Linked DNA regions of Homo sapiens. The protein of the gene in region 4 interacts with the protein of the main gene of each other region in a biochemical or structural test. Each region holds a gene or a part of one and is shown on either strand. Other genes may lie near its edges.

What was found.
Region 1: the proteins of KIT (region 4) and INPP5D form a complex in vitro, tested with the Homo sapiens proteins (one study listed by BioGRID).
Region 2: the proteins of KIT (region 4) and ABL1 form a complex in vitro, tested with the Homo sapiens proteins (one large-scale study listed by BioGRID and IntAct).
Region 3: the proteins of KIT (region 4) and SYK form a complex in vitro, tested with the Homo sapiens proteins (one large-scale study listed by BioGRID and IntAct).
Region 5: of the proteins of KIT (region 4) and PTPRJ, one has a biochemical effect on the other in vitro, tested with the Homo sapiens proteins (one large-scale study listed by IntAct).
Region 6: the proteins of KIT (region 4) and STAT1 form a complex in vitro, tested with the Homo sapiens proteins (one study listed by BioGRID).
Region 7: the proteins of KIT (region 4) and FES form a complex in vitro, tested with the Homo sapiens proteins (one large-scale study listed by BioGRID and IntAct).

What each region holds. Positions count from the first base shown.
Region 1 is NC_000002.12:233,063,342-233,066,841, reverse strand, and holds part of INPP5D (phosphatidylinositol 3,4,5-trisphosphate 5-phosphatase 1), read right to left. Parts: intron 1-3,500. UniProt on the Homo sapiens protein: Phosphatidylinositol (PtdIns) phosphatase that specifically hydrolyzes the 5-phosphate of phosphatidylinositol-3,4,5-trisphosphate (PtdIns(3,4,5)P3) to produce PtdIns(3,4)P2, thereby negatively regulating the PI3K (phosphoinositide 3-kinase) pathways.
Region 2 is NC_000009.12:130,852,254-130,855,753, forward strand, and holds part of ABL1 (tyrosine-protein kinase ABL1), read left to right. Parts: intron 1-1,810; coding exon 1,811-1,984; intron 1,985-2,547; coding exon 2,548-2,843; intron 2,844-3,500. UniProt on the Homo sapiens protein: Non-receptor tyrosine-protein kinase that plays a role in many key processes linked to cell growth and survival such as cytoskeleton remodeling in response to extracellular stimuli, cell motility and adhesion, receptor endocytosis, autophagy, DNA damage response and apoptosis.
Region 3 is NC_000009.12:90,843,319-90,846,818, reverse strand, and holds part of SYK (tyrosine-protein kinase SYK), read right to left. Parts: intron 2,962-3,500; 5' UTR 2,921-2,961; coding exon 2,504-2,920; intron 1,386-2,503; coding exon 1,225-1,385; intron 1-1,224. UniProt on the Homo sapiens protein: Non-receptor tyrosine kinase which mediates signal transduction downstream of a variety of transmembrane receptors including classical immunoreceptors like the B-cell receptor (BCR).
Region 4 is NC_000004.12:54,730,957-54,734,456, reverse strand, and holds part of KIT (mast/stem cell growth factor receptor Kit isoform 1 precursor), read right to left. Parts: intron 3,130-3,500; coding exon 3,038-3,129; intron 2,587-3,037; coding exon 2,459-2,586; intron 1,388-2,458; coding exon 1,265-1,387; intron 1-1,264. UniProt on the Homo sapiens protein: Tyrosine-protein kinase that acts as a cell-surface receptor for the cytokine KITLG/SCF and plays an essential role in the regulation of cell survival and proliferation, hematopoiesis, stem cell maintenance, gametogenesis, mast cell development, migration and function, and in melanogenesis.
Region 5 is NC_000011.10:48,130,559-48,134,058, forward strand, and holds part of PTPRJ (receptor-type tyrosine-protein phosphatase eta isoform 1 precursor), read left to right. Parts: coding exon 1-158; intron 159-952; coding exon of another isoform or gene 953-957; exon of another isoform or gene 958-2,162; intron 2,163-3,500. UniProt on the Homo sapiens protein: Tyrosine phosphatase which dephosphorylates or contributes to the dephosphorylation of CTNND1, FLT3, PDGFRB, MET, KDR, LYN, SRC, MAPK1, MAPK3, EGFR, TJP1, OCLN, PIK3R1 and PIK3R2. Plays a role in cell adhesion, migration, proliferation and differentiation.
Region 6 is NC_000002.12:190,972,672-190,976,171, reverse strand, and holds part of STAT1 (signal transducer and activator of transcription 1-alpha/beta), read left to right. Parts: intron 1-260; coding exon of another isoform or gene 261-284; coding exon 285-360; coding exon of another isoform or gene 361-364; exon of another isoform or gene 365-634; intron 635-1,239; coding exon 1,240-1,342; intron 1,343-3,500. UniProt on the Homo sapiens protein: Signal transducer and transcription activator that mediates cellular responses to interferons (IFNs), cytokine KITLG/SCF and other cytokines and other growth factors.
Region 7 is NC_000015.10:90,891,004-90,894,503, reverse strand, and holds part of FES (tyrosine-protein kinase Fes/Fps), read right to left. Parts: coding exon 3,313-3,500; intron 2,951-3,312; coding exon 2,828-2,950; intron 2,447-2,827; coding exon 2,393-2,446; intron 1,798-2,392; coding exon 1,679-1,797; intron 1,405-1,678; coding exon 1,310-1,404; intron 1,214-1,309; coding exon 1,090-1,213; intron 851-1,089; coding exon 693-850; intron 569-692; coding exon 446-568; intron 1-445. UniProt on the Homo sapiens protein: Tyrosine-protein kinase that acts downstream of cell surface receptors and plays a role in the regulation of the actin cytoskeleton, microtubule assembly, cell attachment and cell spreading.

The DNA.
Region 1 (3,500 bases), on a different chromosome or scaffold from region 4:
ACACCATTGCATTCCAGCCTGGGCAACAGGGGTGAGATGAGACTCTGTCTCAAAAAGAAAAAAAAAAATTAGCCGGGCATGGTGGCATGCGCCTGTAATCCCAGCTACTCAGGAGCCTGAGGCAGGAGAATCACTTCAACCCGGGAGACAGAGGTTGCAGTGCGCCGAGATCATGCCACTGCACTCCAGCCTGGGCAACAGAGCAAGACTGTCTTGGAAAAAAAGAAAATTAAGAATTGTACACCATAGAAAGGGTGACTGTATGGAATATGAATTATACCTCAATTTGAAAAAATAACCCAACGAGTGGGCTTTGGCCTTGTCATCCTCATTCCACCTGTGAAGATGCTGGGTTGACACAGGAAGGTTAGCATTTTGCAAATGCAGCCCAGCAGAGCCAGCAGACCACAGAGCCTTGCTCCTCAGGAGTGCACAGCATGGCACGAATTATTGAGGGAAGAGCAGAGCTCCTCTCACTCTATGTCTGGGGTGGGGAGAAATGCCTGGCTGTGAGGACCACATGTCATCATGACGCAAGGGTTCATGTGCAGGGAGATGGCACCAATTGATTGAGAGGTGCTGATGTGAGGCTGCGTGCAGCGGCTCACACTTGTAATGCCAGCACTTCGGGAGGCCAAGGTGGGAGAACCACCTGACTCCAGGAGTTGGGGGCCAGCCTGGGCAACATAGCAAAACCCTGTCTCTACATAAAAAAGATTAGCCAGGCTTGGTGACTTGCACCTGGAATACCAGCTACTCGGGAAACTGAGGCAGGAGGATCGCTTGATCAAGCAAGGCTGCAGTGAGCTGTGATTGTGCCACTGCACTCCAACCTGGGCAACAGCGAAAGACCGTGTCTCAAAAATAAAAAATAAAATAATAATAATTTTAAAAAAAGGCCAGGTGCGGTGGCTCACACCTGTAATCCCAGCACTTTGGGAGGCCGAGGCAGGTGGATCACGAGGTCAGGAGTTTGAGACCAGCCTAGCCAACATGGTGAAACCCCATCGCTACTAAAAATACAAAAATTAGCCAGGTATGGTGGTGGGTACCTGTAATCCCAGCTACTCAGGAGGCTGAGGCAGAAGAATTGCTTGAATCCTGGAGGTGGAGGTTGCAGTGAGCCAAGATCATGCTATGGCACTTTAGCCTGGGCGACAGAGCGAGACTCTGTCTCAAAAAAAAAAAAAGAAAGAAAGAAAGAAAGAAAGAAAGAAAGAAAGAAAGAAAGAAAGAAAGAAAGAAAGAAAGAAAGAAAGAAGGAAAGAAAGAAAGAAAAAGGCTGGGTGCAGTGGTTCATGCCTGTAATCTCAGCACTTTGGGAGGCTAAAGAGGCCAGATCACCTGAGGATAACACAAAAAAAAAATTAGCCCGGTGTGGTGGCAGGCACCTGTAATCCCAGCTGCTTGGAGGGCTGAAGTAGGAGAATTGCTTAATCCTGGGAGGCGGAGGTTGCAGTGAACCAAGATTGCACCACTGCACTCCAGCCTTGGCGACAGAGCAAGACTCTGTCAAAAAAAAAAAAAAAAAAAACCCAAGAAGTGCTGATTGTGTTCATGAATTTATGAATTTAACCTACCAGGTAGACAAACATGCAAAGCATCAAAGCTGGAGCCTAATCTCTGGACCCGAAAGGACTTTTCACGGGGGCTGAGCGTAGGCACAGAAAACCTGGAGACTCCATTTTAACATGCTTGCTCTGCGTCACTTCACATGGAAGATACAGTTAGTGAGTGAAATACATAGGCCTTCCAGGGCACATACCCCTTCCTGGTCTTGCATGCAGAGAGAAAACCCGGCACAGTCAGCCTTGGATAAAGCCCCTTGGCCGGCTTTCTGGTGTGAGCCAGATGTCAGTAGCTCTGGCTACGACCTGGGCCAGCATTTTTTCCCACTGACTGTCAATATCAGATATGAAAAATAGTGCCTTATTGCATTTGCACAAAAACAATTAACAGTGTCTATTTTACTGAAGCTTCGAAAGGGAGACTTAGCCACCCGCTCACACCACAGCTTTCCAACTCTGTTGGACTCTCTGAGATTAGGAGTTTCGCCCTCCCAAGTCCCTTCTCTGCGGCTCCATCACGAGAAGTTCCCTCTCCAGGCTCTGCCCCGCCCCACACAGGCCACCTTATGGTCTCTGTTTCTCGCTTCCAGGAAGATCATGCATGCAATCCTGGCCCTTTTATTTGTTAGTCCTGTAAACTAGGCCTGTTCCATAAACCGCTCTGCACCTCGGTTTCCCCATCTGTAAAGTGGAGATAATAAGACCTCCTTTGAAGGTCTTCGTGGACATCAAATGAGTCAATATAAGCCTAGAATGGTGCCTGGCACAGAGCTCTTTGGAAGTTGCCTGCTGTTATTAGGCGGAGCAGGTTGGTAACAACCTTCTGCTGGTGAAGCCAGGTCTGTCCGGTGCACTGTCTACACTGCCCCTGGGAAGGGGTAAGCAAGACCCTGCCATGGTGCCTGGGTGGCCTGTGGAAGGCCACATGTGGAGGGAAACCAAAACCACACTGTCAGCTGTGGCCAGACCAGGCACTGGGTTCTGAGCCAAAGGCAGCCACGTGCCTTCGCCTCCCCCATGAGGGAAGCCCCCTCTCTCTGGAGTGGTTGGCTGGGAACGCCGCCCTCCTGCGCAACTCCAGGCTGGATGGCAGACAGCTGAGCCGGCCACTCTAGGCCTGATCCCGGGCCCCAGCTGCTCCTGCAGAGAGGGCAGCCTATATACTGACATTGGGCCTTTGATCAGCTTTGCCTGTGCAGATTGCACAAGGGGATGCCGGCTCGGCCAACCCATGGACCCTTGCATTGACTGACCCCATTCCCAAGGCATCTCTTCTTTGCAGCATAAGGCCCTGCCAGGTGTGCTGGCCCCTGCGTGGCAGGAGAGGGCATGAGCCTGACAGCTCTTAATGTCTCCCACCCACGATGTACCCAACGTCCCCTGGAGGCACCCACAGACTCCCCCCGGAGCAGGGCCAACTCTGCCGGGGGATTTGAGTGGGGACCAGGTGGGGACAACATAGGCTCTACTTAGAAGAGCCCCTGGCTGAAAGACGGCAGAGTTGGACCCAAACCAGGCAGCCACCTGCTGGAGTCTTCCCACTGCAACTGTCTGTGCCCCGAGATGGAGCCCAGGCTCCCTGTCAAGCAGGGCTTTCCAAGCTGCTGAGGTGAGATCAAAGCTTTCCTGCCCAGTGGTAGGTGACGGGGCTGACCTCTCTCGAGGAAATGCAGGGTTTGCTGGGTGTGCGCAGAATGTGCACTCCTAAGTCACATGGGTGGCACTGAACTGTAGCCCTGTCTTTTGATGTCCAACCCCCGCTCAAGTCCATTTACATAGTCAAATCCTGTTCTCTTTCCTGAGCACAAAGGCCCCTCCCTGGTGAGGCTGCTCTCAGTTCCTGAGACTCCAGGCACACTTGCCCAAACCATCAGGTGGAGACTCCGGCCGTTGTCCCCTTGCCCACCAGAGGGGGCCTGGGAGGGAGTGCTG
Region 2 (3,500 bases), on a different chromosome or scaffold from region 4:
ATCTCAGCTCACTGCAACCTCCGCCTCCCAGACTCAAGCGATTCTCCTACCTCAGCCTCCTGAGTAGCTGGGACTAGTAGCTGGAACTACAGGCGCCCGCCACCATGCCCGGCTAGTTTTTTCTATTTTAGTAGTGACGGGGTTTCACCGTGTTGCCCAGGTTGGTTTTGAACTCCTGAGCTCAGGCTCAGGCAATCTGCCTGCCTCAGCCTCCCAATGTTCTAGGGTTACAGGCATGAGCTACTGTGCCTGGCCCAGTTAGTGATTTTTAAATTGTAGTTCCTTAAATGAGTATTTTGGATTTCACTCCACAATGTTCTTCAACTGTAAGATCTACTTGAGGTTATTTGATTTGCTGGTTTGCAAGAACTCGTCTACACGTTGTCTTTATCACAAAGAAATTCTGGAGCGTTTGAGCCCTGTTCAAAAAAAAAAGGCAAGAAGAAACTTCAGGAACAAATAACCTATTTGACCCTGTAATGAATAATATTCACACATTTTCTAATTTAAGAGCTGTTGATTGATTTCCAACTTTTAGAATCTGTTTCAGACAAAACATGGAAGTTTAGTAACAGTTTTTTCTATTCTGTAATAATAATTGCCACAAGGTTAAAAAAAAAAATTTACAGAAGAACATATTTGAGGGTGGTCGTGGGGGCAAGAAAGCTGGAAGGACGGGTGGGGTGTGTTAATAGCCTTGTCTTGTGAAGTAAGTCCTCAGAGACGCTGTCCTAGTTGGAAGAACAGGCAGTGAAGGTGTGCGTCTGTTACGGAGAATAGGACTCCAGTGATCTAGCTGGTACTTAGAGAGGTGGGGGTGATCACCAAAAAAACAGCTCTGCCTCTGGGAGCGGAGAGGACTGGGATAGAAAGTATTTGTCTTTCATTTTAAGCCCTTCTGTACGATTTGACTTTTCTTTTTTTTTTTTTTTTTTTTTTTGAGATGGAGTCTCACTCTGTCACCCAGGCTGGAGTACAGTGGCACGATCTTGGCTCACTGCAACCTCCGCCTCCCAGGTTCAAGCAATTCTCCTGCCTCAGCCTCCCAAGTAGCTGGGACTACAGGCACCTGCCACCATGCCCGGCTGATTTTTGTATTTGTAGTAAAGACAGGATTTCACTGTGTTGGTCAGGTTGGTCTTGAACTCCTGACCTCATGATCCACCCCCGGCTTTTTTTTTTGACACGGAGTTTCTCGTTACCCAGGCTGGAGTGCAGTGGCGCAATCTCTGCTCACTGAGACCTCCACCTCCTGGGTTCAAGCGATTCTCCTGCCTCAGCCTCCTGAGTAGCTGGGACTACAGGTGTGCGTCACCATGCCCGGCTAATTTTTGTATGTCTAATGGAGACAGGGTTTCACCATGTTGGTCAAGTTGGTCTCAAACTCCTGAACTCAGGTGATCCACCCACCTTGGCCTCCCAAAGTGCTGGGATTACGGGCGTGAGCCACCATGCCCGGCTAAAGCAAGAAATTTTCATTGCATATTTTAAGCAAAGGCAAATGCATATGTGGATAGACTGTTTTAATTTGACTAAAGTCATATTGAATCCATGAATTTTAGAAGCTCAAACTATTGGGGAACAATAATTACCACCTTGGAGTGAAAATACTTAATTTCCACAAGATTTAGTAAAGGAAGAGTTTTTTAAAAACCACCTTAATGATAATAGTATGTACAGATGTTAAGAAATGAAATAGGAATGTGTAATGTTGGAAACACAAATATTTTTGCTTCTGAGAATAAAACTAATTTTTTCTCCCAATTTTCTCTTCCTTTTTCTTTTTTCTGTTCCCCCCTTTCTCTTCCAGAAGCCCTTCAGCGGCCAGTAGCATCTGACTTTGAGCCTCAGGGTCTGAGTGAAGCCGCTCGTTGGAACTCCAAGGAAAACCTTCTCGCTGGACCCAGTGAAAATGACCCCAACCTTTTCGTTGCACTGTATGATTTTGTGGCCAGTGGAGATAACACTCTAAGCATAACTAAAGGTAAAAGGGTTGTGGGCAGCTAGTGGTGGTTGCAGGAGATAGAAATCTGGGAATTGCGGTTTGACCTACCACCCTTTGCTCGTTAAAGGAGCAGCTTTGAAATCTGGACTGCAGGGATATCCAAAACAACAACTGCATGTTTCTAAGGGAGTCGACTCTCCTTAGAGGAGTTCTTGTACAATAGCCCTGGGCAAAAACAGAACTTGCCCTATTTTTTATACTGAAAAGGACAGCTGGACAAAATACTGAACGCAATTTTTCCCCTAAGAAAAAGCATTATTTCCCTAAAATGTCTTATATTAGGAACAGAGCACTTGAATAAACATAATTGATTTATAAAAACTGAGGCTATACACTTACCTATCTGTTCAGTACAAACAGGAAGCTTCAAATGTAAACGTGAATTCTCATACACTTATAAATGCATATCTTTATGTGGACTTGTTAAAATGAAATTGGTATTTAGGAATTTGGAGATTTTTAGTAGTTACACAAGAATCAATGAAAAAGAACGAAGCTGGTTTCCAAAGCTGATATGTCTGATTTGGTTCCTTTCTTCTCAGGTGAAAAGCTCCGGGTCTTAGGCTATAATCACAATGGGGAATGGTGTGAAGCCCAAACCAAAAATGGCCAAGGCTGGGTCCCAAGCAACTACATCACGCCAGTCAACAGTCTGGAGAAACACTCCTGGTACCATGGGCCTGTGTCCCGCAATGCCGCTGAGTATCTGCTGAGCAGCGGGATCAATGGCAGCTTCTTGGTGCGTGAGAGTGAGAGCAGTCCTGGCCAGAGGTCCATCTCGCTGAGATACGAAGGGAGGGTGTACCATTACAGGATCAACACTGCTTCTGATGGCAAGGTAGGGGACCCTTGGCAGGGGGCGCTGATGGGCCCAGGGCAGGGGAACCAGAGGTCCTGCTGTCGGATTGATAAATTATTGCAAGAAAGCTCAACCAAGAAGATGTTTAAAGAATCTTTCAGGTGGGAGTCATTCCATTAGCCTTATGAAGACCCTTTATTGAGGATCCGTTCTGTGATATTACAAGTTCCTGGGACTGGTATGATTCTCTTATTGTCTTGCTAGAGTTTTGTTGTTAGCAAGTTACTTAAAATAGGAGGAATATCTGTTGGGTTTTGGACACATTTTTTACAATAAGATTCTTCCTTTAAAAAAAATATTTTATAATGATAGAAATCATCCCCAACGAGAAAAATTCAAATAATAGATAACCTTTCTTAGAGCGAAAGACCACTTTACTATCCCCTCCCCCACAGACGCCTGGCACGTGGGCTTCTTCCTGCGGATGAACACATTCATGGAGAGGTGTGTGGACATACGTGCATACACGCATGCAGTTTTCAGTGAAAACCGGGATCAAACCCACAGCTTACCAAACCCAAAGTGTGGTGTTGTAAGGGAGGTGGCCTATATGATTTTGTGGTCTTCATATAAATAATCCTTAAGAGTCCATAAAGAGAAGGGAGGAGTTAACATTGACTGAGGTATTGCTATAAT
Region 3 (3,500 bases), on a different chromosome or scaffold from region 4:
CCCTCCCCACAGCATTCTGCTGCTGGCTGGGGCTGCATCCCACTAAAGACCATCACTCTAGGCACTGCCGCGTGGCAACCTGGGCCACTCTTCCTTCTTCCTTTTTTTTTTTTTTTTTTAAGAGTATTGTGGTCAATTTTTCTTTTCTTTTTTTCTTTTTTTGAGACAGGGCCTCACTATGTTGCCCAGGCTGGTCTCAAACTAGCCTCAAACGATAGTGAGATCATAGTGAGGATGAAGCGATCCTCCTGCCAGGAGTAGCTGGGACTACAGGTGCGTGCCACTGCACTCAGCTAAGATCATTTTTAAAATACAAGGTATGACAGTGAAGTCTGAGGAAATTCCTTTGAATAGATGGACAGGCAGAGAAAACGCTTCTAAATCTAGGAAAAGTTTACGAAGTCGGCTGGGGATTCACCAATTGCCAAACCATGAGGCTGCATCGCTGTTTCTGGTTATGTTTCCAAGGTAAGCATCTCTGTAGGGACACTGAGAGGTGACCAGGGGATCATTTCCCCCAGGGACAACTGCCCCACTGAGCCACCTTGACCAGACCCCCTCGAGGGAACAAGGTTGACACCTCCCAAAGACAGTTCTTTACCTTCTCTGGACAACTGACTGACCACGTTGGCCTGTATCTCAGAACCTTCTACAATTTAGATTTACACTGAACCACTGAGGATAGCAAACAGAACCCAGGATTCAGACAGACCCTCTAATGACTGTGGGCCTAAGGCTGAAGTCTTCAAACCTGCACTCACCACTCATGGATGCTACTCCCAGGAACTTTTCCTTAACATCTTTCCTGTTGGCATCTTGTTTCATGTAAAATAGAAGTAAAGTCTGAGATCAAGGGGGTAGTTTGAGTAAAAAAACTGCAGTATTTTAATTTTAGTTGGATAACCACAGAATGTGCTATGCAACCTATAATTTGCCATTAAAAGGAGAATATGGGGCTGAATCACATTTTCTTTAAATATTACATCCCTCGGTGCCCAAAAAGAGTGTTCATTTTAGAGTTAGACTGGGCAAAATAAACACTGGGTCACAAGTGATAGCTTTGGTTAGAAATGTCTTTAGAACAGGCCAGCATGCATGTTGTCAAATGGCAATGCATGGCCTCTTCCCAGGGTCATGTGGGGCCAGTCACAAGGAAGCTGAATTATTCCCAATTGTCCACACAGGCCTGGTGGCAGGAGGTGAGGGGGAAGGCACGATACTCACAGGAACTTTCCATTTGTCTTTGATCCTATCAGGACAATTTGCTCAGATTCTTCCCGAGAGATTTTTCCATGGAACCAAGGCATTTTTTCATGGGCTGTGGTAGCGATCAGCTTCTCCAGCTGAGGCTTCTGACTGATGATGGCCTGCTCCAGAGCCTGACCCTGCCACATGGAGAGCAAAGCAGAGTAAACCATACCGAGGAAAAATGAAAATGATGCAGAAGGCATTTCCAATCTATCTCGAGTCCTGGCATGGTAAAACAGGATCAAAACTTATTCACTCATTCATTCAGTAAATAAAACCAGAAAGACCTTTACACATTACTTAAGTACTTTCAAGTGTATAAATAAAAATAACATGGCCGGGCACGGTGGCTCACGCTTATAATCCCAGTATTTTGGGAGGCCAAGGAGGATGGTTCACTTGAGGTCAGGAGTTCGAGACCAGCCTGGCCAGCATGGTGAAACCCCATCTCTACTAAAAATACAAAAATTAGCCAGGTGTGGTGGCACATGCCTGTAATCCCAGCTACTTGGGAGGCTGAGGCAGTAGAATCGCTTGAACCTTGGAGCCAGAGGTTGCATTGAGCTGAGATCATGCCACTGCACTCCAGCCTGGGTGACAGAGCAAGACTCTGTCTCAAAAAAATAAAAAATAAAAAAATAAACACACATATCCTTTGCTGTGGCAATCCCAACCCTTTCAAAGTTTATCCTGCAGACGTTGCATACAAGTGTAGTATACGATAGGTCTAGAGCAATGTTGTTAGCAGCGTTTATTCATAAACAGCAAATGTGTCCATCAATAGGTACTAGTTAAATAAATTGTGGTGCATAGCAGGTGATACCAGATAGCCAAAGAACGGGTGATGCAACTATATGAGTGTTGACACAGAAAGTTCTGCAAGAGATATTAGGAAGCCATAAAATCAAGTGCCTATCAGTGTGTATGGTAGGACCTTGTCAGATAAACAGAAACCAATCAACACCTATCAATGCCTCTCTGAAAAGGCCCTCCTTGCACTGGGTAACAGTGGTTCCCTGCTGTGGAGAAACCCACACTGCTGGCACAAAGGGACCCACCCTCTCAGCTGTGGCTGTGAAAGAGGAAAGGCTCTTATCAGAGAGAGGCATTTTTTGGCCAAAATTGATGCTTAAGGAGATGGTTGTGTTATTTGGGCACACAGGGCACATAGGCACATGTGTTGCATGTAGCCAGGAAGTCTGTGTGGGGTCACAGGGCCCCCTGGGCCCAGGGAGCAGGACCAGCTGTGGCCCACCTGCAGGTTCCATGTCTGCTTCACATATTCCCTGATGAGGTTTTCCTTCAAATCCTCAAAGGGCCCAGTCTTGGGCTGCACCCCTTGGGGCCGGTTGAAGGGCTTCTTGAGGAGGCAGACCAGGCCATCAGACTCCTGGGAGTGGTAGTGGCAGAGGTCGGCGGGGCTGGCATGGGTCCTGCCACCGGCGATGGCGTAGGTGCCATTCAGCTCCCGCTCGATGGTGTAGTGGTGTGCCTTCCTCCCGTGGGCCACGGACAGGGCGAAGCCACCCAGGTAGTTGCGGCTCTGGCGCAGCAAATAAAGCCCATCACTCATGCCCCCCTGGACCAGGTAATCTTCTGCCTCCTCCCGGGTGATGTTGCCGAAAAAGAAGGGCAGGTGGTTGGCGCTGTCAGCCATGCCGCTGCTGGCCATGCTTCAGGGGCCGGAGGGCACACACCTGCGCAGGTGTCCACCTGGGCAAGACAGAGACAGAGAACTTTGGTGAGGACCCCACGTGGCAGGGAACGTTTGCTAAAACCACTCAAACCCTTTCAAAGTGGAGACAAACCCTCCCATCTCTGAACAAAGGCACTTCCCTCTTTGGCCCTCCCAACACACAGTTGTCTTTCTGTTCACATCATCATTACAGTTTTCAGCATGCCTTCTAACTAAGCTAAAATCAGAGCATTTGATGGAAGTGACCAAATTAAATAATTCTTTTTTGGGGGGAGTGGGGAAAGACAAAGAATTCTAAAAATAAACATACCGCAAAGAGAAGCAAACAGAAGGGCTATTGCAAAACAGGACTCTTGGGCTGACCCTCAGGGTCCCAGCAGCATACAGGAGGCAGAATCTACATGAGAACAAACCAACTGCTCCTCCTGAGTCCAGACAATGTTAGAGAAGCCTTGCTCCTCATCACAGTGATATTACCAAGGAGGACGCTACCACCACCTCACCCACCTGAGCTGCGAGACGCTGCCTCGAGCAGTCAGTCACACGCTGGTGCTGA
Region 4 (3,500 bases):
AGACATCTATAAAGAATAGTAACAATATGTCTGGCACTGTCATAAGCACTTTACATATATTAACTCATAACTTTCTGAGTCAGGAATCACTATTATTCCCAAGGGGAGAAAAACAAAGATTCAGAGGTATTGGACAACTCTTGACAAAATTACACAGGCATGAAATAATGGAGACAGATTGCAGAATTCATCAAGACTGGGCCTGGAGGCGGCCACCTTCTTCCTCCTCCCTTTGGTCAATATTCAGAGGACTGGATAATTAACGACTTATCATTCTTCCTTCCAAAATTGCACCAGGATGAAGAGAAGTTGTTTTTATTATCACTCCTGATGATAATATCTAGCTTCAGGGCAGCCTTTTCAGAAATTCATGCTTTGGCCAGGAGATAAACACAGAAACACTCTTACAAAACCAAATCGAGTACAGGCTACCAATAGAGACGCCACAGTGATGGGGGGAAAACATTACATTATCATAAGGGGCACAAAAATCCACCTCCAGGAATAAATCTGGACTGCAGAAATGGGCCCAGGAAGACAGGCAGAGAATATTATAAAGGGCAATATGGTTTTCCATGGCGATGGGATGCCACTCTGGAAATCACAGGCTCTAGTTTCAGCCTCTATTGTCCTGTGTCACCTCAGATAAAAAGCACTAAAATATGCCATGCCTTAGTTTCTCCAACTTTTAAAATAGGAAGGTGCTGCAATTATAGGACAAGGGTTTGTTCTGAGGATTCAATAAAAATTGGCAAGGAAATACAGCACTTTGAAAAACATTTGCTATGTTCTACAAACCCATTATTACTTATGAACCTATTTAATAGCTCTCCGTGTATTCTAGGATCCAACATTCTATATGGCTAACTCTGAATATGATCTTAGATTTTAATATTTTTCACACGGCATGCCAATCCCCCCAAAATTTCTCCTGCTGTGACCTTCAATGACCTACATTTGTTACACTTGAGCAAAATCAAGTTCATTGCTATTCTCAGGCTATAATGAAAATTAAGGCTATTTCTGTTTCCTTCACATGCCCCAAAATTACACAATTAGAATTAGGACTTCTATTATTGAATGTTAGTTGTAGTAATGTTCAGCATACCATGCAAATTTTGCTGAAGTATACTTAATTTGACTGCTAAAATGTGTGATATCCCTAGACAGGATTTACATTATGAAAATCACAGGAAACAATTTTTATCGAAAGTTGAAACTAAAAATCCTTTGCAGGACTGTCAAGCAGAGAATGGGTACTCACGTTTCCTTTAACCACATAATTAGAATCATTCTTGATGTCTCTGGCTAGACCAAAATCACAAATCTTTGTGATCCGACCATGAGTAAGGAGGATATTTCTGGCTGCCAAGTCTCTGTGAATACACTATTAGGTTGGAGGAGAAAAGAAAACCATTTAAATTCATTTTAACTTGTAAAGAGTGAAAACTAACTTTTTAATACTATAGTGTTGCTTATATTATAAAAAATCCAATACTTTTGTTTTAAAGTATTCAGTACACCAAAAATAAAAATCAAAAGTACGCCTTGAATGATGTTCACATAATCAAGAGTCTAATTATTATAATCTCTTTTAAAAGCAATTCTAATAAATGCTGTTTTCTTCTCAGGACTGCTTTCATTCATAGGGAAATACATAAGAAATAGTCATATCATATTGTTTAAACTGAAAATTCATTTTGCATGCATCTCTTTGAATGTCCTTTCACAGAGTTCCTAATATGCCTTTGCAAATTCAATCTGACATCTCCCAAGGACACACGGAAGAAGGTCTTTATTTCAGCCATCTTATATCCTTTCTTAGTTTGGTAATTGTTGGGAAATGTCACCCATGACATTTAAGGGTAGGACTGGTAACTCATTCTGTTCGGTTAATCTTACTTCCTAAGGAACTCCTTTCACCCTTCCACAGACCATGCTCCTTGTTTTGGTTCCATCATTCTTTCCATTCCTAACCTTCTCCCAAGTGTTTATTACTCCCTCTGACCCCTTATTTCCTGACACTTCATAAGCCACACATATAATATTTGGATCTAACTTCAATAAAACTCAAGTCTATGCTTCACCCCAAGCCTTGTAACTATGAGGTGCCCTCTGCTTTTACTGATAAAATGATTCTGTTCTCTAGGAACATATCCTATATCCTAAAAGCCAAAAGTTTTAAAAGAATTTCACTGCATATAAAAGAATATTCATAGAAAAACTCATTTAGACAGGCTTGTACTTTACAGCTTATAAATTAGAACAGGAATTCCAAAGAGACAGCAGTTGGAACATGAAGAAACTAAATTTCCTCTGCTTTTGGTTACCACACTTCAAAATGACATTCTGCATTTTAACTATGGCTCTAAAATGCTCTGTTCTCAAAAAAAAAAAAAAAAAAAAAAAAATCAAAAAAACAAAACACAAAACTCTTTAGAGAATCACTCCCACTTACATTCTTGGAGGCGAGGAAAGCCATGCCCTTTGCCACCTGGTAAGAAAAGCTCAGCAAGTCTTCTAAGTCTAGGGCCAACTCGTCATCCTCCATGATGGCGGGAGTCACATCTCTTTCTATGTATGAGCCTGTGAGGAAGAGAGGATTTTTCTTAGCAATTACAACCATAAAGGTCAGGAAAGGAAAAGACAGTGGCAATGACATACCAAAGGCTGGTAATGAATGAACTAATGTGAACTTGCAGGCAGATCACTTCCCTGGTGTCCAGGAAAGGTAGATGCTGAATCACAAAGTTAATATTTAACAATCCTAGGCTGGGTTACAAAATCCATAGAGGAGAGGGATGGCGAATTAAAGCAAAGATCCCATATCTATAGAAAGATACTCAGGCACAAAAACATATGCTCTGACCCCAAACACCCACTTGCAACCCTAACTGCCATTGACCATTGGCACTGCTACCATAAAGCAGAACTGGTCTGCATCATTGCTACTGGGAATGATGTTATATTCCACATTAGCATGATATACATACTCTCTGTAAAGTTACTCTTGGTTGCTTGATAGGTAGGTACTCACCTATTCTCACAGATCTCCTTTTGTCGGCCTTGGTTGGGACAACATAAGAAACTCCAGGTTTCATGTCCATGTACTCATTAGTACTATCGCTGCTGGGAGAGATGAAACAAGTCATGACTGAATCAAGTGGGACATGTAGAAGGGCACTCATGGGTCATGCTCTACCTCCTCATCCCCTTTGCTACATAATAGACTGGACCAATTTGAGGAAAGTCATGTAAAGTTTGAATAAAGAGTTTGAAAATCCTGTTCTGTAAGAAATGAGTTTTTAATAATCGATATTGGGGTCCATGCCCAGAAACTAGGTGTCCTTTTTGTGTATAATCATATAGAGGACTCAGGTTAGAAATTTCCCGTCTCTTGACACAATGAATTTAATGGGAGACAGAGAGCCAAATATGGTATCCCGTATTACCTCAAACTCTCTAAATGAGCCCCAGGAGACAAGATGAAAGAAAGACAA
Region 5 (3,500 bases), on a different chromosome or scaffold from region 4:
CACACAGGAGGGAGCTGGCAATTCTCGGGTAGAAATAACCACCAACCAAAGTATTATCATTGGTGGCTTGTTCCCTGGAACCAAGTATTGCTTTGAAATAGTTCCAAAAGGACCAAATGGGACTGAAGGGGCATCTCGGACAGTTTGCAATAGAACTGGTAAGCAAATAGGCTTTTCTGTTAAACCATCATGTTTCTTAAAGGAAATCAGTATAATTAATAAACATAATGTTTCCAAATATTGTTTTTCTTTTAATTATCTAAGAAAAAACTTTAAAAATTTTCATAACACTAATGCTTATTTATTATATGAAATACAGACAAGTAAGTAGAAAAAACTTACATGGAAACCATCAAGCAGAGATAATCACTTTTGATGTATGACATTTTACAATTTTTAAACATATACATATAGATACACAAATATATGTGTGAGTATACATATATTTAATACATATATATTTAATATTTAATACACACACACACACACACACATATATATATATATATATATTTTTTTTTTTTTTTTTTTTTTTTTTTGAGACAGTCTTACCCTGTCACCCAGGCTGGAGTGCAGTGGCATGATCTTGGCTCACTGCAACCTCCATCTCCTGGGTTCAAGTGAAGCGATTCTTGTGCCTCAGCCTCCTGAGTAATTGGAATTACAGGTGTGCACCACCATGCCTGGCTAATTTTTATAGTTTTAGTAGAGACAGGGTTTCGCCATATTGGCCAGGCTGGTCTTGATCTCCTGATCTCAAATGATCTGCCCACCTCAGCCTCCCAAAGTGCTTGGATTACAGGTGTGCGCCACTGCACCCAGCCCACAAATATATATTTATTTCTTTCACAAACATTGAGGCCATCTGTACATGTGGTTTTGTAATCTGCCTTTTCCCCAACTTGCCAATTAATTATGAATATTCTTTCCTCTTAATAAAATATTTCTACAGGATGATTTGAACACCTGCCTGGAATTCCATCATCTGAAACAGAGTTGGCAGATAAGAATGGCCCCTATGCCAAATTTGGCTCATTGTCTGTTTTTGTAAATAAAGTTTTATTGGATCACAGCCATGTTCATTTGCTTATGTACTGTCTATGGCTACTTTGGTGCTAGAATTGAGTAGTGGCAGCAGAGAACGTGTGGCTTGTGAAGCCTGAGATATTTATTTTCTGGCCATTACAGAGAATGTTTGCTGACCTCTGGGCTAGATCAGTGGTTTTCAAATTGTGGTCCAGGGCTCTCTAGGGATCCCTAGGTTCTTTCAAGGGGTCTCCAAGGTAGTATTATCATAACAATACTAAAATGTTATTTGGCTTTTTCATTCTCATTCTCTTTTGGAGTTTTCCAACTTTGATCCGATATGGGATGACATTGTCTCTCAGGTCTAATGGAATATATGCTGTGGATTCTTACATTTTAAAAATTTCTTCATTTTAAATCCCTGATATAGTAAATATTAATAAATATAACCTATGTAAATACAAATTCTCTGAGAGCCTTAATAACTTTTAAGATGGTAAAGAAGTCCTGAGAGCAAAAAGTTTAAGAACCTCTGGTCAAGATGTGTTAGAAATTAACTACTGTGCTGTGTTGGGCAGGTGGACTGTTCACAGTCTTTCCTAAACAACACTGTGATGAGATACTTTGTTAGTTCTAGAAGGCTAATTGAAATTGATAAAATCATTTTATAGTCAGCTACGGTGGCCTGCACCCATCGTCCCAGCTACTTGAGAGGCTGCGGCAGGAGGATTGCTTGGCCCAACAGTTGCAGACTAGCACCAGCCTGGGAGACCCTGTCTCAAAAAAAAATTTTTTTTTATAGAAACAGTTTAAATTATTAAATTATTTCTAGGCCTACAGGAGAAACTTCTGGGAAATCCTAGAGAGTAATGTTCATTATTGTTGTTTTAAAATTTTGAAATAATTGTTTTTTGGAAAGGTTGAAAAACATACAGTCTTCCTTGATCTAAGATTCAAGATAGTTGAAATCTTTTATACAGAGGGTAGAATAAAGATATACCTAATGTAAATGATGAGTTAATGGGTGCAGCACACCAACATGGCACATGTATACATATGTAACAAACCTGCACGTTGTGCACATGTACCCTAGAACTTAAAGTATAATAAAAACATATATATATATATAAAAGAAATGGGACAGATTCCTTGAAACACACATGAAATGAGTTACGCTTTTGAGATTCTCCTTGAAGAAGCTTCTTCAACTGTGCTGGTTGGGTTAAGCACCGATAGTCACTCAGAGGATCTGCTTCTGAAATAAGGGATCTACTAAAATGCATCCCTCAGATGAAATGCAGTATTCCCTTTGCAAATCTGCATTTCAGACTGTTGACATGACGTCTTAACGTCAACATGTTTCTTCTGTCTTTTAAGGATGTGGATAATGGTAAGAGGATCACCACTGAGGGAGATGCATGATGTTGTGCTACTTGCTATTGCCCAGAACTTACTGTAACAATAATATAATATGCTGGGGGTCTGCGAAGTGCTGAGTGCTCTCATACTGCATTTTACATTTTTAACACAACTTCATGGAGCAGGTATTATTATCATTTCTGTCTTACAGAGTAAGAAATGGGGGCTCTGCAAACTTAAGTAACTGGCCCAGAGTGACAAGGTGGCAAACTGACCTGTGTCTGCTGTCTAAGACCAAGTGCTTAACCACCATGTAGATTGACACTTTGATGTGGTACAGCAGTAAAGTTTAGTATTAGTGAGGAGAGGGCATCTCTTTTACTATAGTTTATTGTGAATATTCTTTCCTCTTAATATCAGTATTTCTACAGGGTAATTTTAACACCTGCCTGGAATTGCATTGTCTCAAAGGACCCGTTTCATTCAATGGTCCCATTGAATGAAAGTCAAGAAGGCTTGCTATAAGATCTAAACTCTTAGGGGGGTTACCTTTCTATTATCAAATAACCTTTATTGTTATTGGAAAAAGTCAGCTTAACAGCATTAAAAGCAATTTCAAAAAAAGGAAACGAATACCATATGATCCAGTAATTCCAGTCCTATGTATATCTCCAAAAGAATTGAAAACAGGCCCCTGGACAGTTATTTGTACATCAGTGTTCATAGTAGTAGCATTGTTCACAGTAGCCAAAGGTGGACCCAAGATCCCATCAACAAATGAATGGATAGATAAAATGTGGTTCATCCATACAACAAAATACTATTCAGCCATAAGAAAGAAAGAAATTCTGATTTATGGTACAACATGGATGGATCTTGAGGACATTATGCTAAGTGAAGCCAGACACAGAAGGACAAATACTGGATGATTCCACTTACATGAGTACCTAGATTAGGCAACTTAATATTCTACAGAAATTAGAATAGAGGTTACCAGGGGCTGTTCAGAGGAGGGAGTGGGCATTATTGTTTAATGGCTACAGTTTATGCTGGGGATAATGACAGTGTTTTGGGTACAGGTAGTGGTGATAGTTACACAACATTGTGAATATTGA
Region 6 (3,500 bases), on a different chromosome or scaffold from region 4:
CAGACTTCTTGTAAGATTTCAAGTTGTGTAAAGAGAAAGCTCCTAGCTAGTGTCCTGCTGAACACTAGCTTATTTCCAGACTGAATTCAGATCCTTCTTCTCGTTGTTTCTGCATTCCCACTAGAATTTTAGGTGACTCAGGCAGGGAGGTTATAGCTCCTTAAAGTTTTAGGAGGCTAAGCTGTCTAGAAACACAGTAGAACTTTAATCCCCCCGAAAAGTTGATGTTGTATTCTGATGGAATTTCGGTTGATGGAAAGCGTACACAATGTGTTTATTTCTAGCACCAGAGCCAATGGAACTTGATGGCCCTAAAGGAACTGGATATATCAAGACTGAGTTGATTTCTGTGTCTGAAGTGTAAGTGAACACAGAAGAGTGACATGTTTACAAACCTCAAGCCAGCCTTGCTCCTGGCTGGGGCCTGTTGAAGATGCTTGTATTTTACTTTTCCATTGTAATTGCTATCGCCATCACAGCTGAACTTGTTGAGATCCCCGTGTTACTGCCTATCAGCATTTTACTACTTTAAAAAAAAAAAAAAAGCCAAAAACCAAATTTGTATTTAAGGTATATAAATTTTCCCAAAACTGATACCCTTTGAAAAAGTATAAATAAAATGAGCAAAAGTTGATCAGAGTGGGAAAGTAGTTCTTTTCAATCTAGAAAAGGCCAAAGTAATGATTGAGATACACTGTCTCCACTTGCTTTGATTTTGTTGTTTCATTTTATAAAAGGTAGAAAAAATTTTGGAAATGTCATTGTCAGTTATTTGGCCTGCAGCACTGTCTTGGGGTGAATGGATGTAGCCTTCATGTAAAAACACTGTGTGGAGCAGCTTTATCTGCATTCAAACCTCAAGGTAGGGATGAGGGACTCCCCAGACATTTCTCTGGTGCTTTTCTGTCCAGGGTAAGCCACGAGGCATTGTCATCTCAGGGTAGTGCACCGCACATGCTCACACCTAGGCTTACCCAGGCAGAAGCGGCACAGATTCCAGTCTGGCTATTGCTTATCACATCCCTGGAGTGTGAAACATTTCCCAAGGGGCTGGGCTGGGGACATGAGCCTCCCATGAGCTGTACTTTTGCAAATGTATTTTACAAGTGTATGCACTTACCCAAAATAAAAATATAACGTGATAATTCAATTACAGACAAAAGATAAAGTGTGTAAGTATGCACTAGTGCTTTCATCACTCAGATGTTGACATTGCTCTTTTCTTTTTCCCCATTTTAGTCACCCTTCTAGACTTCAGACCACAGACAACCTGCTCCCCATGTCTCCTGAGGAGTTTGACGAGGTGTCTCGGATAGTGGGCTCTGTAGAATTCGACAGTATGGTGAGTACCACGGCTGGCCTGTGTGTAGCTCTCAATAAGTGTGTGTGCTCAGAGGCAGGGAGCGCACCATGGCAGATCCCGGGCCTGTCTGCGGGAGGGAGCCCTGGCGGAGCCAAGGAGAGTGCAGTGCTCAGATGAGCCATGACAAGTTGGAGCTGCTGGATTTAAACCACCTACATCATCAGTGGGATTTTTATTCCTCGCATTCAGCACCTTCCAAAAAACAAGTGACATTTCTAATATTCAGGTTTCCTCCTCTCCCCTTTAAAGTTGTCCATGTAGAAATTTCATATATTAAGGAACTAAGATTTCTTTGATAAGCAAATGTTTTTCTTCGGAATGCGATTTCATCACTGTGTCTAGGGGAGGGAGTGTTATTTTTAGAAAGGGAGGGACTAACGCTTGGTAGTTACAGTAATTAGAGAGAATTATACTTTAGCAGCAATGAGATTACTTCATCTGCCTTATATTTGAGAGCTAATTTGTACAAGTAGCTCCTGGGGCTGTGAAGGGCTTGCCAAGAGTAAAAGGTTCAAGGAGTGAAATAGTTAATGAGATTCGTGATAGAAATGGGAATATGATTGTCCACAAAAGGGAACATCTTCCTTTTGGAGGGTGCTTTTTTAGTATATCAACTAGTATTGTTTGCCTTTCAGCCTAAAATCCTTCCTCTTAAAGATTGTGCTTGCTTGGCTGGATTTTTGCTGATGCTGTTTAATTTTAAGCTCTTTTCCACATGGAGCTATTCCAGCTCATTTTTAAAAATTTATTTAATGCTTCCAAAAAATATCCTGAGTTATTACTGGCCTTTCTTCCTTACTGTATACCCGGTGCCTGGCAAAAAGTAGGTGCTCAACAAAGAGAGGAAGGCAGGGAGGGGAAAGGTGAGCGAGAATGAGAGGGCGTCACTCTTCAGACATTTGGGGAATGCGATGATAAGGCCTCAGTAAGATCTGCCTGGATTCAGGTTTCTCATGTGTAATTTTTTGACTTTTTTCCTCACCTTAAGCACGGGCTACAATCATTAGAGATTGTACCTTCCTACACTTTCCTGATTGTTGTTGACGAAATAGGCCATTTAGAAAAACAGTTAGCTATTGTGGCAGCGAAATAGTTTCATTCCTATTGGCAAGTGTAAAATGAACCTTTTCTGCATGTAAGAAGGATCCTGCTAGAGTTTCGCTCCCAACACTGCTATAGGCCTGGCACAAAAATGGAATAAATATAAAGCCCTATTCAGAAAATATGTTACATCACAGGAACTGTAAAATGGGGGGATTTTTTATACCTCCTTTGTTGTTCCTGAGCAAATTACATCATCATCACCACCACCATTAATAGGTGACATTAAGCACCTACAGTATACCATGTACTTCACAGGTAGTAACTCATTCAGTCCTCACAGCCACCTTCTGAGTTAGGTGTTATTGTTATTCCTACTTTGACAGATGTGGGAACAGAGCCCCTCCTCCCCACACAGCCCCTTTTATGTAACTTGACTAAGATCAAGCAGTTAGTAAATGGTAGAAAGAATATTTGAATCTACCTAGTGAGTCTCTAGTGCATGCTTTTGTCCGGTATCCTGGAAAGCCTCCCACAAAAAGCTAATCTTTGCCCCATTCAAAACATGCACCCTGAAGAAGCTGTTTGTACAGGATTGGGTTTATTCTGTTATTAAGACAAAGGCATCATGGCCTTTGGGTGAGAGGCCCGTATGTGTTTGGGATTTGGCAATCAGCATTCCATCTCTGTCATCACCATTATTGAGAAAATAGATGGATTGGTTCCCTCTCTGCAGTCCTGTGGAGCAGTTGGACTGCTCTCTCTGCTCTCAGGATGATACTGTGAGAACAATTTAAATATGCTAAGCACATGTCAGGAAACAGTTTTGTGGTCTTTGGACACTCGCTGTAGCCATTCCGTTCCATTTCAGGTGATTTTATTCATTTCATTTGTAGAATAAAATAAATCCATTTCACACACACACACACACACACACACACACACACACACCCTCTATACACCACTAAAGCCTCCCATTAAACCCATAGAAGACTTAAAGAGCTAAAAGAGGCTATAATATAAAAAAAAAAAAAGAAAAGAAAAGAAAAAGAGTTCATAATATAGGCACGGCACTGGTTAGACAACGGTTGAATCA
Region 7 (3,500 bases), on a different chromosome or scaffold from region 4:
AAGCAATTCTCCCACCTCAGCCTCCCAAGTAGCTGGGATTACAGGCACGTGCCACCATGCCTGGCTAATTTTTGTATTTTTAGTAGAGATGGGGTTTCACCATGTTGGTCTGGCTGGTCTCAAACTCCTGACCACAGGTGATCCACCTGCCTCGGCCTCCCAAAGTGCTGGGATTACAGGTGTGAGCCACCGTGCCCAGTCTATTTTTGTATTTTTTGTACAGATGGAGTTTCACTGTGTTGTCCAAGCTGATCTTGAACTCCTGGGCTCAAGTGATCCACCCAGCTCAGCCTCCCAAAGTGCTGGGATGACAGGCGTGAGCAACTGGCCAGGTTATTCTTATTCTGCCTGGTGGGAAGGTTGGCATTAAGGGAGTTAGAAGAGTCCGGCTGGAGCATCTGGAAGAGGGTGCAGCCTGAGGCTGCTGTCATCACAGGGTGCTTACCCTTCTCCACAAACTCCCGTGTCTGCTGATTGCTGAGGTTGGGATAGGGGGAGGCCCCCAGGCTGAAGGTCTCCCAGAGCAAGATGCCAAAGCTCCACACGTCGCTTTCGGAGGAGTAGCGGCCTGCAGAGGAGGCGAGGAGGTGAGGCAGCGTGAGTGCACCCTCCCTGGGGCCAGGGCGAGGCAGCCGGCAGGACCCAGGCCTGGCCTCTGGCCATGGAGTCCAGGGTAGACAGGGACTAGGTACCGTAGTTAAGGGCCTCAGGTGCGGTCCACTTCACGGGGACTTGTCTGAGGCCCCCTGAGGCTGCATAGACCCCATCGGCTTCCTCTCGGGACATCCCAAAGTCACTGATCTTCAGGACATTCTTCTCTGTCACCAGGCAGTTCCGAGCAGCCAGGTCCCTGGGTGAGACAGGGCAGGGGCTCATTTGGCCAACAGTCGCCTGCCCAGCCCTGGCTGAACACTCTAGGAAAGCCAAGGACAAAAGCTGCTCCCGGCCCTGGGCACCCCTGTCTACCACAGAGGCCAACTCCCCCTCTGGAGCTGATGCCTGATGGTCCAGCGGGGGGCCCTAGGGGTATAGGTACCTCTTGACTCTGGTCGGGGGTGTTGGCAGGGCCCGTGGCCACCGCCCACTCACCGGTGGATGCAGCACTTGCTCTCCAGGTACTCCATGCCAGCAGCTGCATCCCCCACCATCTGCAGCAGAGTCTTCACCCGCAGGCGGGCCCCCTCCGTGCGGAGGAAGGTCAGGAAGTCGCCCCCTGCAGGTGGGGAGGACCCCTGCTGAGCCTCCTGAGGTAAGGCTGCCACCTGACCAGGCTGCGCGCCCTACCTGGAGCTCAGCGCCCCGCGCTCACCCTGCACAAGCTCCATGACGATGTAGATGGGCTGCTTCTGGGTGCAGACACCAATGAGACGCACGATGTTGGGGTGGCTGTACTGCTTCAGGATCCTGGAGGGCACTGCTGCTCAGGATCTACGTGGCCAGGCCCGCCTCCCCAGGGCCCCCCAGGGATGATGGGAGAAGAGCTTGGCCTCCAAGGCCAGCAGACCCGGACGTGTGACCTGGGGCAGCCTCTACCCTTCGGCACTATAAGGGGGTACTACCCGCAATGGGGGGCCTCGAGGACTAAACACCACCACGGTGGTCAAGCACTTCACACTGTGCCATGCAGTGTAACCTCTGTGTATGCGGGACCCGTGGTGATCATTAGTTTATCACCCACCTCGCTTCCTGTAGAAACTTGGCCTTGAGGTCAGGTGGGAGCGTCTCTCGACAAGACTTCACCGCCACCAGGGTGTTGTCGGCTCGCAGGCGTCCGCTGAACACTTCGCCAAAGTTCCCCTGAAACGGTCTTGGGCTCCTACCACGGCCTTCCCAGTCCCGCAGTTCTCTTCTCCGCTTCCTACCCATTCTGCTTCCTACCCCTGGGTGAGGGGCCCCCGTGTTCGGACCCCTCACCCAGGCTCTCTGGGAGTTTGACCCTCGCTGGGGAACCTAGAGAGCACATGGGGCAGGCAGGGAAAGTTGCCTCCGATGTGCCACCCTTCCTGAGAGAAGTGACATGGAAATCCAAAAATCACTCTCCCTTGGGTTTGAAAAGCATTCTGATTTTTAGGACAGTGACTTCTTCCCTAAACAGGTATCTTATGGCTTACAGTAACAGGGTGTCTCCCTGCGTGCACACAAGAGCTCGATGGGGGCGGCCTGGGTGGGGGTGATGAGGTCAGGGTGCTGGCAGAGCTGTCTGCTGGGAGTTTTCAGGGTAGGTACTGTCCCGTTTCCTGGAGGATGGTGTGTGGTGGGGGCTGGGCAGGGAGTCGGGGTACAAGTGGGGAATCAGATGGGGCAGGGAGGTCTCTGGGTGGTAGGGCAGGGGGCCCAGGCGCGACTCAGGAGAAGTCGCCAGCGACAAGGAGGCCAGCAGAGGCGCACTCACCCGTCCAATCTGCTCACCCAACACCAGGTCCTCATGGTTCAGCACCCACTTGTCCTGGGGAAGAGAGGAGACAGGGGATCAGAAGTCTGAAGAAAAGGGGTGCTGGGCCCTTAGAAGGGCTGTGTCCTCCATTTTTTGGCGCCTCCATATGTGACCAGGGGTGGGACCACGTGGGGAGCACACTGAGATGACTACGGGGTCCAGGCAGGTGCCCTGACCAGGTAAGCACCAACCTGGTGTGTACAGCCCATGGCATAGGAGTGGCCCTGACATTCCAAACCTAGAGCAAGGCTGGCCCTGAGGGTCACTCACTCTGCATCTTGTATGTAGACGGAGGGCCTGGAAAGCCCTTTCTGCTCAGACGCTGGGTGGGCCTGACCCACACTCCCCAAGCCCTGCCACAGGTGGCATGGGCCAGGCTGGGTGCAGGCTCACCTTGGGCACAGCCCTGTGCAGGACAACACCACTCTTCTTGGTGAGGGGCTGCTGGGTGCTCAGTAGGTGGTCGATGAGCAAAGGAATGCTAGGAAAGCCTTCCCCTTCCAGTCGGTACAGGTTCTGCAGGGCAGGGGACCCGGGGTCAGCAGCCTCCATTCTGAGGGGGCGTGAGCCCTGGGAGGGGGAAAGGGAGAGCAGCAGGGGAGAAAGGGCCTGCCCAGGACCAGGGGCAGAGAGACCTCCAGAAAAGATGCCATCTGATGGCACATGACATCCTGCTGCCCCACCAGGGGAGGACTCACACTTAAGCCTCTATTTTGTTGCAGGGACAGGGTGGTCTCTGTGGCCCCTTCCAGCCAGCCCTGCTAGGGAGGCATCCAAGACCTGGCAGCTACCCCCTACCCTGAAAGGCCATTTCCCTTGGGGAAGGGAAGGGAGGGGAAGAGTGAGGCCTGGAAGGCTCGGGTCCCAGCCCCACTCACATCCAAGGACTGGATGATGAAGTGCCGGGGCAGACCATCCCACAGCACCGACAGCACGTACTCCTGCTTGCCCTGGCTCTCCCGCACCAGGAAGTCCCCAGAGTGCACCAGCAGCTCAGCCACCTCTGCCCTCGGGATGGCCCCGTGGTACCACAGCTGCTCATGCAGGGGCTTCTGCACCTCCGGAA